Regions from separate parts of the Homo sapiens genome. Here region 1 is linked to region 2. Evidence: fine-mapped expression QTL. Tissue or cell type: whole blood. Region 2 holds a variant in brackets; the other region holds the start of a gene. All regions are shown on one strand. Distances are between the middles of the regions.

Region 1 (8,099 bases), 58 kb before region 2:
TGCCTTCGCCTTGTGATCTTTATTGCCCTTTGAAGCATGTGATCCTTGTGACTTACTCCCTGTTCATACACCCCCTCCCCTTTTAAAATCCCTAATAAAAACTTGCTGGTTTTGCAGCTCGGGGTCATCATCATGGTCCTACCAATATGTGATGTCACCCCCAAGAGGCCCAGCTGTAAAATTCCTCTCTTTGTACTCTTTCTCTTTTTCAGACCAGCCAACACTTAGGGAAAATAAAAAAGAACCTATGTTGAAATATTGGGGGCTGGTTCCCCCGATAGAAGGCAGGGGCACTTCTAACAGCATCCAATCTAGAGCAAACCCAACTTCCTTAGTCTCTGACAAATCACCCAATCAAAGCCCAAATTCTAAGATAGGTTCTTTCTAATACCCTCCTACGGAGATACCTTATGGTGTATTTTTTTTCCACACTGCAATGAGTAATAAAGCCAATGTGCTCAACTACAGGAATGTTCCTGTATATTTGTGGAAGGAAGGAAGGACCTGTGAAAATAATGTTCCTAATGCAACATTCACTAATTAAATACATTGCTATCTACTCAAGGGTTAACTGAATTTAATGGGAGCTCTAAGCTGTTTATCTCTACCTTATAAAGTTCACTTCATCGAGTTCTTATTTAAATTTAGTTATAATCCAGTCTCTCCCTGGAACTAGCAGTTAACAAATTTATGAAAATATTGGACCCAAGGATGCCTGTCCAGTTATTTAGGGTAAAAACATATCCTGGCCTTTCCTTTATCTGGTATGAGTCAACACTGCTCAGAGAACACACATGTCCAGAGCAAATGTCACCTCACGATGAAACTTGGTAAACAGCCTGAGGCTCCCTCCCCCCTTTCATCTTCTATCAGCTTCAAACATTAGGTAGATCAAACATACTCCTCCACAATCTATGATCTGCAATCCAAACTTAATGCTCTTAATTATAATCATGGAAACTGGCATGAACACCCAAAACTTATTAATTTGATCACTTTGATCACCTGCCATATGCTGTCCTGAAGTTAGGAGGGATAAGATGAGGTATAAGTCCATTGTTCATTTACTCCAAGAGCTCAGAATATAAATAAGAAGATGCCAGGTTCTATCTCACTATATAATGCAAGAGTTTATATTTTCATTTATGCATGAAAACTTTAATTTACCTCATCTATAGGAAAGAAAGTACATTCTTTTCTAAGCCCTGAAGGGAAAAATATTCTGCTTCTTGCTTCTCCCTAATCCTGCCCTGGCAAATACCTTAATACAAATGCTGACAGTCTTGCCTATTACCAATTCAAATGGAACGCAAAGAAAAGCACAGGAAAGGATATATCCCACTAGAGTTGGTGACAATTGCCCCATTCTCAGGAAAAGTCTCTGGAGGTTGTCTCACCATCCTTAAGTGAAAAGCAAGTTGGATTTATGTCCTCAACACGTTCAGGTTCTCAGCATTTGTTAATTGCTTGATTCATTTCAATGGCATGAGGTTACATCAGTGTCATCTGCATTAAAAGGTGTTTATTACCTACCTCTGTTGAGTGCTATGCTGTGCTGCAATGCAGAGCAAACAGGTTTTCTGCAACTTGGAAATCTCTGACAATGACCCAGAATGCTGATATGGACAGATGGAATAAAGACAGCTGAGCAAATATTGAAGCAGTCTAAGAATTAATAAATAATATTAACATTTTGTACAAGTACATAACCTTAACTGGGAATGCTGGCAGGTAACCTTGAGGAGTGTATGCACAGACTGGATAGGCCATGGAGAATTCACAACCTTTTTTCTAATTAATCTCATGTAATATAGCAGGCTGATAAAATAAATCTGACTTTCCCACAGCATATTCTGAACCACTTTGGAGACTTGGAACTTCCCCAGGAAGTCAGGTCCTATGAGAATTCTCAGAGCACGTCAGCTACTCATTGCTGGCTAAAGGCAAAAGCTCTAGCAGCTCTAAGCCCTTTTCGCATTAAGGGTATAAAACTAATTTCCCTCCTTCGCCTCAACCAAGCAATCAATAAGAAACAATACTATATGTAAAACATCCTACAATGTAGAAAGTGCTTTTATCCTGTGTCTCCATTTTGAATCTCACAACAGACAGGCAAGACATATCTATCAACCAATAAATAATTAACTAGTGCTAGTGGTGGCAAGTCCAGCACTATATACCTATACACAGAATCACATGATCATCTCCAGCCTCAGCATGTTTACAATCTGTTTATAAGGCAAGATTGTGAGTGTTCAATAGATTCTTAGAGAAATGAAGATTAATGAGGACAGATCTGGTTGGAGAAGTGTGATCCAAGACGAAATGTGAATGAAATTGGGAAGGATGCCAGAGTTATGGCTAAGTGAAAGAAGCAAGGGCAGTTGGAGAAAGGGTAGAGGAACCCTTAGGAAGACATGATTGTGTTAATGTGAAATCTGGAAAGTAAAACGGAAGTGGCTATTTGGTCCATGCAGCAGCACCCAGAACAACCCTTAAATATAAGACGTACTCAGTAAAGACAAAACTGAAAAAAGAAGTTGGGGCTTAACTAAGCAGCAAACTTTCCCCAGTTTTAATCAAACAGATAATCACTGGCTCTTCTGTAGAAGGCAGAAGTTTCTTCCCTGGTACTTCCCCAACAGAGTAGAACTGTCAGCACAGTTCCTATTTTGTGAGTAGAATAAGTTCTAATTTTTTTTATTCTGTGAAAAGTGTAGCCATTGAAAATTTTCAATAGGCATATGAAAGCAGTGTTTAAGGAAAATTAATATGGCCATGATATGTGATTCAGGTTAAAGGGAGAATGATGTCAGTGAGTATGGCTGGAACTCAGGTGCATCATCCAGGTGAGAGAAAATGAAAGCCATTAGGGGAGTTTTCAGTGAGGAAGAGAACAGAGGTACATAATAAAATAAAACAATTTAAAAGTTACATAGTTTAAACTGATAGAACTTGATTATCAATAAGATGAAAAAGAAAGGAAAATATACCAGATTTTACTCTATGATTTATAATCAGAGGAACTCAGAGGGAACATTGTTAGTGACAGAAATGGTGATGTAGCTGAAAAGACAAGTTTTTGGAGGAGATAATTCTTTCCTTCATCTCCTCCGATGTGAATGAGAAACAGTGGTTGGTTTTTTACCATCTTCCTGAAAATAAAAGGCTGTATCTCAAAAAACAAAAAACAAAAAACAAAAAAAAAAAGGAAGGAAGACAAATGCCCAGAAGTGTTAAGACACATGGCCAGCAGAGACTTTTCCAAAGTCCTTCACTTGGCTGGACTAGGTTCTAGGCCTTAGAGCTGACTGTGGGTGGATGACAGGGAAAGCAGAATGACACGGTTTGAGAAAAGAAAGGGCAGGCACACCAAGTCACTGCTCTGCTACTCAGTTGGAACATGCCTGGATTTCGTGCTTATTACATAGAGTATTTCCGTGCCTGCGATGCAATCACTATCACCTCTACCTCCACACACGTGAACCTGGTCTCCTGACTTTAGTTAGGAAAGAAGAGAACAATGCAACTCACAAGAGGAGAAGGATGAGGACAAGTGTTTAAAATAATTTTTCAAAGCTGTTGGCACATTTTCTTTATGATTATTGTCTGGTGAACCTAGTGAAAATAAATACTGTATTGAGATAATCTGTGCCGAGCGGATTTATTTCCTTTTGTTTTGTCGGAGAAAGGAGGACAGGTACTGAGTTGCACCCTGGTTTCCGTACTTCACGGTACTGTTTTATCTAAGTTTTAAAAAACACCTCAAATTCAACTAGCTGTGGCATTTTTCTCAGTGCTCTTATCACTATGCCCAATTTAAATTTTTTAAATAAAACAGGAAAAGATGCTAAACACATTACAAGTTCTTAAAATTATTCCTTAATATTTATTTTGGGTCAATTTAAAAAGGCTTGTGAATCCATAGCCTTGAGTTAATATTTAGCCCAGGTGTTAGTTAAATTCTAACTTCAACAGTCACCCGCACTTGTAAATCTTGCCCTACGATGGACTACGTTTCCCAAGAGCACCCCCCGAGTTAATCACATGAAGCGCATTCTGGGAATTGTAGTCTCGGATGAGCCTCTTTCTCCCAGTCTTGGACTCACGCGCTGATTCCGGTTGAACCCAGGGGCTACCAATTAGCTGGGGCCATGTCCGTGAGTCGTGGTCCAACCGAGAAAGCTGGTGTGGGAGCTTCGTACAATGATTGGCCAATGAATGACCCCCGGGGCGGAGCAATGGGGGTGGGCGGGGAGACCATGGTGATTGGACCAGAAGCCCGCGACGGCGGGCGGGGATTGGCTGCGCGCTGGGTCAGGGAAGCCTGGGAAGGGGCGGAGGAAGGAGACTAGAGCAGGAAGAGCAGCGGCGAGGCGGCGGTGGTGGCTGAGTCCGTGGTGGCAGAGGCGAAGGCGACAGCTCTAGGGGTTGGCACCGGCCCCGAGAGGAGGATGCGGGTCCGGATAGGGCTGACGCTGCTGCTGTGTGCGGTGCTGCTGAGCTTGGCCTCGGCGTCCTCGGGTCAGTATCCGCCCCCTCGGGCTGAAGGCCCAGAGCCTCCGCCCCCCAGCCTCTACAGCCGGCGGGGCCGTGGGGACTCCAGGCTCGGGACCCCGTTCTCCCTGGGCACATCTCGCACTGGGCTGTCACTCGCTCTTTGGCTTTGCTTGGCCTGCGCCAAAGGGGCTATTTAGGAAGGTGGAGTGGGGTGGAAAAAGAAGGGGCGGTCACCCTGCCCACACCTCTCTCCCACGTAACAAACTTTGCGCGACTCTTCTCACGAACGCGGAATTGACTCCAAAGGAATGAATCCTGATACAGGAGCCCGAGTGGAGCTTCCTCGACCCTGGGGTAGAGGAAGGGTCTGGTCTAGAACTCTGGGCTTGGGAATTGTAAGTTAAATAATTGACAAACCTGGAGCTGTCACTTTGGGGCAGAGGAGGATCCATCCAGACCAGGATGTTGACAGTAGTTTGCTTAACACCTGAGATGGTCCCTGGTCTGTCTGTTTAAAAACGAAGACTTTTGATCTCATCGTAGCCACTTTTTACTTTTTTGAAACCTTCCTGAGAAAGCGGTGACCTGTCACAGTGTTTCTGAGTTGCCCCATGTTTGTTGACAGTCATTTTATGATGTTTGGGAAAATCTTGGTTCTTATAAGATGCGTTTTATATAGATACAGAAATTTGTGTGCTTTTGAATTGATTTTCCAGTTAGCTAATGTTTATTCTGGTTCTGCTTTTTTCCCCCTTTTTTAATGTTTTAATCTGCCTACATTTGAAAATTTCCATTTTGAGAGTGTTCATGAAAACTTCGTGTTTCTAAGTGTTGATAAATAAAAATTAGTACAGTAAAACTTTGGAATTTTAATCAGTTTCAGTTAACAGGACAGGTGTTCTGTGGCTTGACGTTTTGGGGGGACAACACGGAGTATAAATGTCAGCTTTTTCTTTTTTTAATAAATGTCAGCTTTTTTTTAACAGAAAATTTCCCAGATGGTTATCTGAATCCCCAAATTACCTGTCCTAGTTGTAAATCAATGCCATAACGTCATTCTGCTTCTAAAATAAGAGGCTTAAACCTAAATTCTATCCATGATGTGGTTTGAGATACCATTTCAAAAGCACCAACCCTATGCTAATTACTTTACTGCCAACATCATTCTTTCAGGTCCACTCCCCTCCCTCCAGTAGTAGTGATGGTTTGAGTTAATGACCAGATCTTTAGACTATACTTAACTCTCGAAGCACTTTTAGCAGTTATTTAATATTTGATCAAAAAGCATGAAATGAAGCTGTTGAGCTTAATGAGTAGAGTACCTGCTGGACCATGGACCTCCTGCATCAGAATTCCTCTTATGGGTTTGTTAAACATTGGGTTTTAGGTCTGGAACAGCTCAGGTATACATAGATTAACAATCTCCATGAGGGATTCTTCACACTAAAGAGAACTACAGTAATGAAAGAGCACGGTGTGTATCCCTCTGAATTTAATTGGCAGAGTTTAAAGAAAATTAAAGCATAGGAATTGTGCTGTCTGTCTTTGACTGCATTTTATATACTTAGAGCTCCATGCCAGTGGAAAAGATATTTGAAGATCAACAGTTGGGGCTTTCAGGATGTTGTAATAAAAGACTTAACACTGATATATTAAATCCTTGGGTTGTATTGATGTAGGTAGAGGACTGTATTCAAGAAATGTCTGCTCTGATTTCCATCATAGTTAAAGCTGTGCCACAACATTTCAATGGTAAAGGCAGAAGCCTTAGCCAGAACTAAAACAATGTAGATGTGCATGCTAAAAGGTAATAAAGGCAGTGCTGTGCTCACATGAAGTTCATATATCATAAAACACCTGTGCGGGCCCAGCTCATACCTGTAATCCCAGCACTTTGGGAGGCTGAAGTGGAAGGATCACTTGAGCCCAGGAGTTCAAGACCAACCTGGGCAACATGGCGAAACCCCATCTCTACGTAACTCCAGGTGTGATGGTGCACACGTGTAGTTCCAGCTACTCGGGAGGCTGAGGTGGCAGGATGGAGTGAGCCCCAGGAGGTTGAGGCTGCACTGAGCTGTGATTATGCCACTGCACTCCAGCCTGGACAATAGAGCGAGACCCTGTCTCAAAAAAAAAGAAAAAAAAACAACCCTGTGTTAAATAAAGTTGTGTAAATTAAGCTATGGATTTTCAATTGTGATTTTCATTCACAGGGTTTCGGCCTCAAAGTTTAAAGTTTTACTCCAGTATTAAAATCAAGTTTTTGGTTATAATTTTGTGTTTGAACATTAGTGGTTACCCAGGGCAGGTCGCATCTCTCCAGGTGGAGTATGGTCAGCCAACAAAGAGAATCTTGATTCTATTGCTGTTGATAGCTGTTAGCTAGTATCATGTTTTAGAAGCATGTAAAAATATGATATAGTCACATGCTACATAATGACATTTTGGTCAACAATGAACCCCATGTAAGATGGTGGCCCTGTAAGAATATAATGGAGCTGAAAAATTCCTGTCACCTAGTGACATTGTAGCCATTGGAACATGGTAGCACACTTTTTAAAAAATAAATTTAGTGTAGTTTAAGTGTACAGTGTTTACAATAGTGTATAGTAACATCCTAGGCTTCACATTCACTCACTCACTCACCCACAGCAACTCTTAATCCTGCAAGTTCCATTTATGGTAAGTGCCCTAGACAGGTATATGTTTTGTAATCTTTTACACCATATTTTCACTGTAGCTTTTCTATGTTTAGCTATGTTTATGTACACAAATACTTACTGTTATGTTACAGTTGCCTACAGTAGTCTGTATAGTCACATGCTGTACAGATTTGTAGCTTAGGAACAACAGGCTACACTATGTAGCCCAGGTATGTAGAAGGCTATCCCATTTAGGTTTAAGTATACAAAAAGGAAATCGCCCAGTGATACACTTTTCAGAACATATCCTCGTCATTGACACATGGCTAATATTAGAAACATTTTCTCTTTTCTATTAATAAATTTAAAGGAGGACACTAAAAAGATATTTCTTCATTTTCTCAGGATAATAGTGAAAAGGTTATAATTTTTCTCACAAATGCATGCTTTCTTATTTTTGGCAGAAGAGGCAAATGGCTTAACCTTTTTTTTTCTTTGTGCCAAGCAGTGTTAGTCATTTTAGTTAGGTCCACTGCCAGGTATTTCAGGTAATAATTATAAATTCAGAGAGTAGTTTTCAGACAGCAGAGGATGTTTAATTTCACTGTTTTGGTCGTTCCTTAAAATATTGTGAGTCAGCGGGACAGAGGTGTTACCCCTTTTGACAGATTGAGAAACAGAGGCTGAGCAAGCTTTTGTTACTGAACCATGTGTCAGAATTAACATGTGATGAAGCCAGGTTCCAGACCTAGCTCTCCAGGTCTCAGAATTGAAGAAATTTAGAATCGAGAGTATCTTAGGATCTGTACCAATTTAGAGCTAAAGCAGAGAACAGGATATCTGGTCTGTTTTCACCAAACTATTTAGACTTTCTGTGTTTAAAGGTTATCAGTCTGTTTAATTTACGTGATGAATGGAAAAATGATTTTGTAGTGATCACTTTTCCCTGAAAGCATA
Region 2 (8,090 bases):
GGCAGGCACCTGTAGTCCCAGCTACTCGGGAAGCTGAGGCAGGAGAATGGCGTGAACCCTGGGGGGCGGAGCCTGCAGTGAGCCGAGATCGCGCCACTGCACTCCAGCCTGGGTGACAGCAAGACTCTGTCTCAAAAAAAAAATAAAAAAGAATGAGCCACCGTGCCTGTCATCTGTTGTAAAATCTTGAGTGTTTCTACCCCACTTTGAAGATCACTGTCCAGAACTGAAACCAGACGTTGCTAATACTGATTGAAGTTTTAAGTAGCAAAAAATTAGTGTGAGTTTCAGAAGTCGCCCTTGGAAATCTCTAGGTTAACAGTGTTAATGCATAGATATATGGCTGTATGCAGCATATCTACACAGCAAATTAGATGTTATGTTGGGGGAAAATGAGTTTTTTAATTAAGTTTTTCAATATTAAGCAGTTAGATAATTAAACGAATTTTACCCAAGTAAAGCTTGGCATTTTTGTTTAGGTGAGGGAAACTCATTTTAAAATGAAAACCTCAAAGGTAAAATAAATTCGTCTAATATGTTCACTAAATATTTTTACTTATTTTGACAAGAAATGCATTTTTGTTTCTTACCTGTATTATAGGATATTCACCTTGCGAAACGTTTTTATGACATGGCAGCTGAAGCCAGCCCAGATGCACAAGTTCCAGTCTTCCTAGCCCTCTGCAAATTGGGCGTCGTCTATTTCTTGCAGTACATACGGGAAACAAACGTAAGTGGTCCGTACCTCTTTTCATTAAAATATAAATGATGGAAGGTCTGTCCTGGAGGTTTGTTTTTCAAAAGTTGAGAAGCACAGGGAAGAGTGGTCCTGCAGGTATCGGGTGTGTTCCCTTCTCCTCAGCTCAGGTACCCGAGGACCTTATCAGGGGAGGGATAAATGCAGGCATAAAGCAGCTACTGCAGTTTTTAGGTAGCGTTTGACACTTCCTGACGCTAAAGCATTTTTCATGGAGGCAGATGTTTTCTGGTTTAGGGAAAACTGAGACTAACTCATGGCAGTTTGAAACAGTATTTAATTCAGTAAACATTAAATCAGATGACTCAAACCAGTCCCTTAAAAAGAAAAGGAAAAAAAAAAGAAGAATCTGAGAACCTCCCCAGGTTGTTGTACTTCAGATTCTTCCGATAGTGAAGCATTAAGTTGAAAACACCACCCAAATTTTCTTCTCTAAAAATAGCGTGAATTATTTAAATAGGCTAATGGAAGAACCTATATAGGAAGTGGGTTACCCATTTTCTTCAAAATTACCAACTTTAGTTGGCAATACTGGTATGTAGGTACTCTTGGGTTCTGCCAGCTTTATATTTTGTTTCCAGTACTATAGTTCCTAGAATGGATTAACTGGTAGAGCATTTCACTCTGAAAGCCCTAAGATGTTCAGAGCCCTTGTTTCTAACATAGGCTTATTCAGGACAAGGAAAGTTTCTTCAGGACCAGAAAAGGATGATGTTTCACCCTTTTGTTAATGTCTTTCAGTTTTAGATTCAAGAATGGGCTTTCCCTCATGTGTGTCACAGGTATAAATGTAGTCCATGCTGCTCCAGCATCAGTGAAAAGAAATGGACTTGTCTAGTCCATGCAGCTGAAGTCCTCCACAGATAGGGTTCCAGAGCACTGGTCTTGTGGGACTCTGGCCTCCCAGTCGCTTCCACATGTGTAATGTCAGTTGCTATAATTGCATGGTAGCATGAGTCAGGTGTGCTGTAACCGCTGCCAATTGAAACAATCTTTGTTCCTTTAATTAAAAGCTGATCGTGTGGCAGCCTCCTCTTTCTCTTTCAGTACCATTTCAGACCTTTATCTCTCACAATTTTTATTACTAACTGTTGGTTATAGTCTAGGACTTCATCTTATAATATGCTGTACTGGGTATATTGTATCTTTGCTGTTTTTTTTAATACAGAAGTATAAAGAAGACAGTAAAAACGCCCCATAATCCTACCACCTAGTTATTCCAACTAAAAAGAAAAAGAGAGTATAAGACTAATAAGTATCGATCATAAGAAAGTCAAACAGTACAGAAGAACACAAATCTCCCATCCCAGATTCTTCCCCAGAGAACACAATTAGTGGTTTCTTGTCATTTTTTTTCCAGAAAAATTTAGCACCTGTACCTACAAACGTGTTATAGAGATCTTTCAAATGTAATTTTATATAAAATTATACCCCATGTTTACTTTCTTAATGGGTAAGTATAATAAAAGTCAGAAAGTATCAGTGATACTAAAACAATTAAAATATTATAGGCTAAGAACATAACTTTCAGGTTTCAATTCAGATGTTAAATATTTTGTGTTTTAGTTAAATCCTAATTGAGAAGCATTATTCATTCAGCTATTAAATGTTTGAATTCCTGCTATTTTCAATTACATGGGAATTGTGAAATGGCCCCACTGTCATGGAACAGAGCTTTCCAGCTGGTGTGCTGTCACTGCCAGTAGGTTCGCTGTGCCAAGATACTAATTTCTCCCCTTGGCTCACCACTGTTTTTTTCTTTTTTCTTTCCTGAGACAGAGTCTTGCTCTGTCGCCCAGGCTGGAGTGCAGTGGCACAGTCTCGGCTCACCGCAACCTCCACCTCCTGGGTTCAGGCAATTCTTGTGCCTCAGCCTCCAGAATAGCTGGGATTACATGCACCCGCCACCATGCCTGGTTAATTTTTGTATTTTTAGTAGAGATGGGATTTCACCGTGTTGGCCAGGCTGGTCTTGAACTCCTGGCCTCAAGTGATACACTCACCTCGGCCTCCCAAAGTGCTGGGATTACAAGGCCTGAGCCCCCGCGCCTGGCCCCAGTGTTGTTTTGTTTTGTTTTGTTTTCCAAATATTTTCTGTGAAAAATGATTAAAATTAGCGTATTGGATTACTGGTGGAAAGAACACTGTCAGACATTTTATATTAAGTGTCAGCTATTATAAATTAGTAGCTTAATTCCTCAGACACATTATTTTGAGCTTCAGTTGAAGGCTTTTAAAACCGCTTTAAACACACACACACACACACACACACACACACACATTGCAAAACGTTTTTAAAACAAATTATTTTAATTTCTGTACTTACTTCTGGTGATGTAACTTTCCCAGTTCCTTGCCTGACATTTTAGTGATAATAATGGTTTCTATATTATTTTCATTAAGATTCGAGATATGTTCACCCAACTTGATATGGACCAGCTTTTGGGACCTGAGTGGGACCTTTACCTCATGACCATCATTGCGCTGCTGTTGGGAACAGTCATAGCTTACAGGCAAAGGCAGCACCAAGACATGCCTGCACCCAGGCCTCCAGGGCCACGGCCAGCTCCACCCCAGCAGGAGGGGCCACCAGAGCAGCAGCCACCACAGTAATAGGCACTGGGTCCAGCCTTGATCAGTGACAGCGAAGGAAGTTATCTGCTGGGAACACTTGCATTTGATTTAGGACCTTGGATCAGTGGTCACCTCCCAGAAGAGGCACGGCACAAGGAAGCATTGAATTCCTAAAGCTGCTTAGAATCTGATGCCTTTATTTTCAGGGATAAGTAACTCTTACCTAAACTGAGCTGAATGTTTGTTTCAGTGCCATATGGAATAACAACTTTCAGTGGCTTTTTTTTTTCTTTTCTGGAAACATATGTGAGACACTCAGAGTAATGTCTACTGTATCCAGCTATCTTTCTTGGATCCTTTTGGTCATTATTTCAGTGTGCATAAGTTCTTAATGTCAACCATCTTTAAGGTATTGTGCATCGACA[C/G]TAAAAACTGATCAGTGTAAAAAGGAAAACCCAGTTGCAAGTTTAAACGTGTTCGAAAGTCTGAAAATAGAACTTGCCTTTTAAGTTAAAAAAAAAAAAAGCTATCTTGAAAATGTTTTGGAACTGCGATAACTGAGAAACTCTTACCAGTCCACATGCAATTAGACATATTCAGCATATTTGTTATTTTAAAAGGGAGGGTTGGGAGGTTTCTTATTGGTGATTGTCACACGGTATACCATACTCCTCTCCTTCAAAGAATGAAAGGCCTTGTTAAGGAGTTTTTTGTGAGCTTTACTTCTTTGGAATGGAATATACTTATGCAAAACCTTGTGAACTGACTCCTTGCACTAACGCGAGTTTGCCCCACCTACTCTGTAATTTGCTTGTTTGTTTTGAATATACAGAGCCTTGATCCAGAAGCCAGAGGATGGACTAAGTGGGAGAAATTAGAAAACAAAACGAACTCTGGTTGGGGTACTACGATCACAGACACAGACATACTTTTCCTAAAGTTGAAGCATTTGTTCCCAGGATTTATTTTACTTTGCATTTCTTTTTGCACAAAGAACACATCACCTTCCTGAATTCTTTAAATATGAAATATCATTGCCAGGGTATGGCTTACAGTGACTACTATTATAATACTAAAACTCAGAGAATCAAAGATGGATTAAACTCAGTGGTTGATGAAAGCCAAAACCTGTTTGTACTGTTCTATACTATTCAGGTATCTTTTTATTTCTGATAGTTTTATATTATAATAGAAAGCCAGCCACTGCTTAGCTATCATAGTCACCATTTTCTCACTGTTAACATTAGGAAAATCAAGGCTACTATGCTTCAGGATTGTCTGGTTAAATAGTATGGGAAAAAAACTGAAGAGTTTCACATAATTACACACGTGAAATAATTAAAGCTTAAACTGAATTTGTATTTCATTTTATTGTCAGATGGTGGTGTTCACCAGCCTGTATCTTGTCTGAGACTGCATTCGTATCTGAGCAGGTTTTCTATGCCTACTGATGTCAGTATGTTTATACTAACCTTCATGCTTTTTTCCCAGAATCCCTCATCTGCCAGAAAACTTGAAAAGTTTATTGCTTGTAGAGTTGTACTGCTTTGATTTTTGAAGTTGGGGTAGTAGTTAGAACTAGATTTAACTAGTCTATAATGAACATGAAGGCTTTTATATATGAAGTTGTATACCTTTTTGTGTTTAGAGAATTATGGGAAACCTGGTAAGCAAAACTTTCCTCCCAGATAATTGCTTCCAAATTCGAAGAGTTAGTCACCAAGAGAGCCATATGTATGAAAGCGTATCTGTGAAAGGTAGGAAACTTACCCCCCCTAAGTGTAATGTTGCTTTAGGCAACTCTTGTAAATAGTGAGACTTGTTTGGTCTCTTACATGTAGAGATTTGAGTGCAGTTGGTACAGTACTTTGGTGTCTCCACCACTGTCCCTTCTCCCCGCTTCAAAATAAGTGTAATCCACGGTAGCAGCCACACTTCCTTTAGAAGGAACTGTTATAATTTATTTAAAAGTTGAAAAACCACCCAAGATGACTACCAACTTTCACTTTTTTCTTCTGCCATCCACCCTCATTTTTCCTTTAGCAAGATTTTTATATCTAACTTTCCTTCCCTCCATTGAGTACGTGCTTTGAGAAAACATTTCTTAAAACAGTGTGTGCCACCTAAGGCTGGATGGGAAAGTGCAGTCTTGTTGTTCATATAAAAACACACTTCTTATTAGTTTACCACTTGCCTTTTTCTATTGTTAATGTTCTGAATTTCCTTTTCTTGGCTTGTTTCTACTTCATTTTACCCTGGGTCACTTGCTGCCAGCAGTTTGTGAATGGTGTCTTTCAAATAACTTAGTTCTTATGGCTTCACTTAAAGACTGTCTCAAAAATACTTTGCTCTCTTCTTCTTTTTTGTTCATGGGACATGGTACCTAAGCAAATAGGAGTTGGGTTTGGTTTTTCTCCTAAAATAATGCTCAATACTTACCTAATCAAATGGCATCCATTTGAATAAAATGACAATAACTAAAGCTAGTTAATGTCAGTGACATTAAACTAACTCCAGGATTCAGGAGTTTTAATGTTAGAATTTAGATTTAACAGATAGAGTGTGGCTTCATTTGTCCATGGTAGCCCATCTCTCCTAAGACCTTTTCTAGTCTGTCTTCCTGCCTTCGAACTTGATGACAGTAAAACCCTGTTTAGTATTCTCTTGTGCATTTGGTTTGTTGGTTAGCCGACTGTCTTGAAACTATTCATTTTGCTTCTAGTTTTATTTTACAGAGGTAGCATTGGTGGGTTTTTTTTTTTTTTTCTGTCTCTGTGTTTGAAGTTTCAGTTTCTGTTTTCTAGGTAAGGCTTATTTTTGATTAGCAGTCAATGGCAAAGAAAAAGTAAATCAAAGATGACTTCTTTTCAAAATGTATTGTTTAGCACTTAACTCAGATGAATTTATAAATTATTAATCTTGATACTAAGGATTTGTTACTTTTTTGCATATTAGGTTAATTTTTACCTTACATGTGAGAGTCTTACCACTAAGCCATTCTGTCTCTGTACTGTTGGGAAGTTTTGGAAACCCCTGCCAGTGATCTGGTGATGATCTGATGATTTATTTAAAGAGCCGTTGATGCCTCCAGGAAACTTAAGTATTTTATTAATATATATATAGGAATTTTTTTTTATTTTGCTTTGTCTTTCTCTCCCTTCTTTTATCCTCATGTTCATTCTTCAAACCAGTGTTTTGGAAGTATGCATGCAGGCCTATAAATGAAAAACACAATTCTTTATGTGTATAGCATGTGTATTAATGTCTAACTACATACGCAAAAACTTCCTTTACAGAGGTTCGGACTAACATTTCACATGCACATTTCAAAACAAGATGTGTCATGAAAACAGCCCCTTTACCTGCCAAGACAAGCAGGGCTATATTTCAGTGACAGCTGATATTTGTTTTGAAAGTGAATCTCATAATATATATATGTATTACACATTATTATGACTAGAAGTATGTAAGAAATGATCAGAACAAAAGAAAATTTCTATTTTCATGCAAATATTTTTCATCAGTCATCACTCTCAAATATAAATTAAAATATAACACTCCTGAATGCCTGAGGCACGATCTGGATTTTAAATGTGTGGTATTCATTGAAAAGAAGCTCTCCACCCACTTGGTATTTCAAGAAAATTTAAAACGATCCCAAGGAAAGATGATTTGTATGTTAAAGTGACTGCACAAGTAAAAGTCCAATGTTGTGTGCATGAAAAGGATTCCTTGGTTATGTGCAGGGAATCATCTCACATGCTGTTTTTCCTATTTGGTTTGAGAAACAGGCTGACACTATTCTCTTTGATTAGAAAATAAACTCATAAAACTCATAATGTTGATATAATCAAGATGTAACCACTATAAATATGTAGAAGAGGAAGTTTTAAAAGACCTTAAGCTGGCATTGTGAAGGAACACCATGGTAGACTCTTTTTGTAAATGTATTTTGTATTTAATGAAATGCAGTATAAAGGTTGGTGAAGTGTAATATAATTGTGTAAACAAATCCTGTTAATAGAGAGATGTACAGAATCGTTTTGTACTGTATCTTGAAACTTGTGAAATAAAGATTCCACCTCTGGTTATCCTGTATGCTGTAATATACCACAACCAAGCACCTTTCCAGACAGACTTTTTTTAAGCTGAATGATTCAATTTTTTAATGTTTTTTGGAAATTCAGAAGCTTCTGAAAACATTCACTTGTGGCAATTTGAATTTATCTTTCATTTTAAACTCCTGAAATTCAGATTTTTACAAGTCCAATATTGCCCTAGGGAGAACATGAATTTGCTAAGAAATGTTATCTTTTAAATCTCTGATATCTTTGTCTTGAAGCAGCCTTGATATGTAGTAAGCGTGATTCACTTTAGCCTGATTATAATATTATTTATCTAAAGTTTGTTTATGCATTGCCTTGTCCCAGGAATTTTTTAAGAGGACTTGCAGAGACACGTACCACACAGTAACATTTAGACTAAATATGCTCTGAGTAAAGGAGAAATGAAAAAATATTAAATCAAGAGTGAACATGTACACAAAGTGCAATTGGAAGTGGGCTACAAATTTGGCCCCCAGCTTCCCAGCAGGCAACTCAAAGAGGTAACTGAGGTAAAATGTTCCAGCTCAGAAGCATTGGATCTTGGATAAAAAGCCTACATGATGCAAACTGTGGCAACTGAGATGTCAGATCTCAAGATCTCAAATTGTACTTGTGGGAGCACAGTCAGTGACCCCAGATGACCTTGACTGACC

What was found. PIP is the estimated chance that this variant, and not a neighbour inherited with it, causes the effect.
Region 1: SEL1L starts here. The variant in region 2 is fine-mapped to the expression of SEL1L in whole blood (TOPMed, PIP above 0.99).

What each region holds. Positions count from the first base shown.
Region 1 is chr14:81,530,100-81,538,198 of GRCh38, reverse strand. It overlaps SEL1L (SEL1L adaptor subunit of SYVN1 ubiquitin ligase), which reads left to right and starts at 4,346. Exons shown (of 21, transcript NM_005065.6): 1 at 4,346-4,524. The coding sequence starts at 4,455. RefSeq lists enhancers at 1-272, 4,059-4,558 and a silencer at 4,223-4,342.
Region 2 is chr14:81,472,252-81,480,341 of GRCh38, reverse strand. It overlaps SEL1L (SEL1L adaptor subunit of SYVN1 ubiquitin ligase), which reads left to right. Exons shown (of 21, transcript NM_005065.6): 20 at 602-730; 21 at 3,161-8,090. The coding sequence ends at 3,370. Among named protein-coding and RNA genes, the nearest start is that of LINC02308, 26 kb to the right of the region's middle. The variant C/G (reference allele first, on the strand shown) is at 3,757.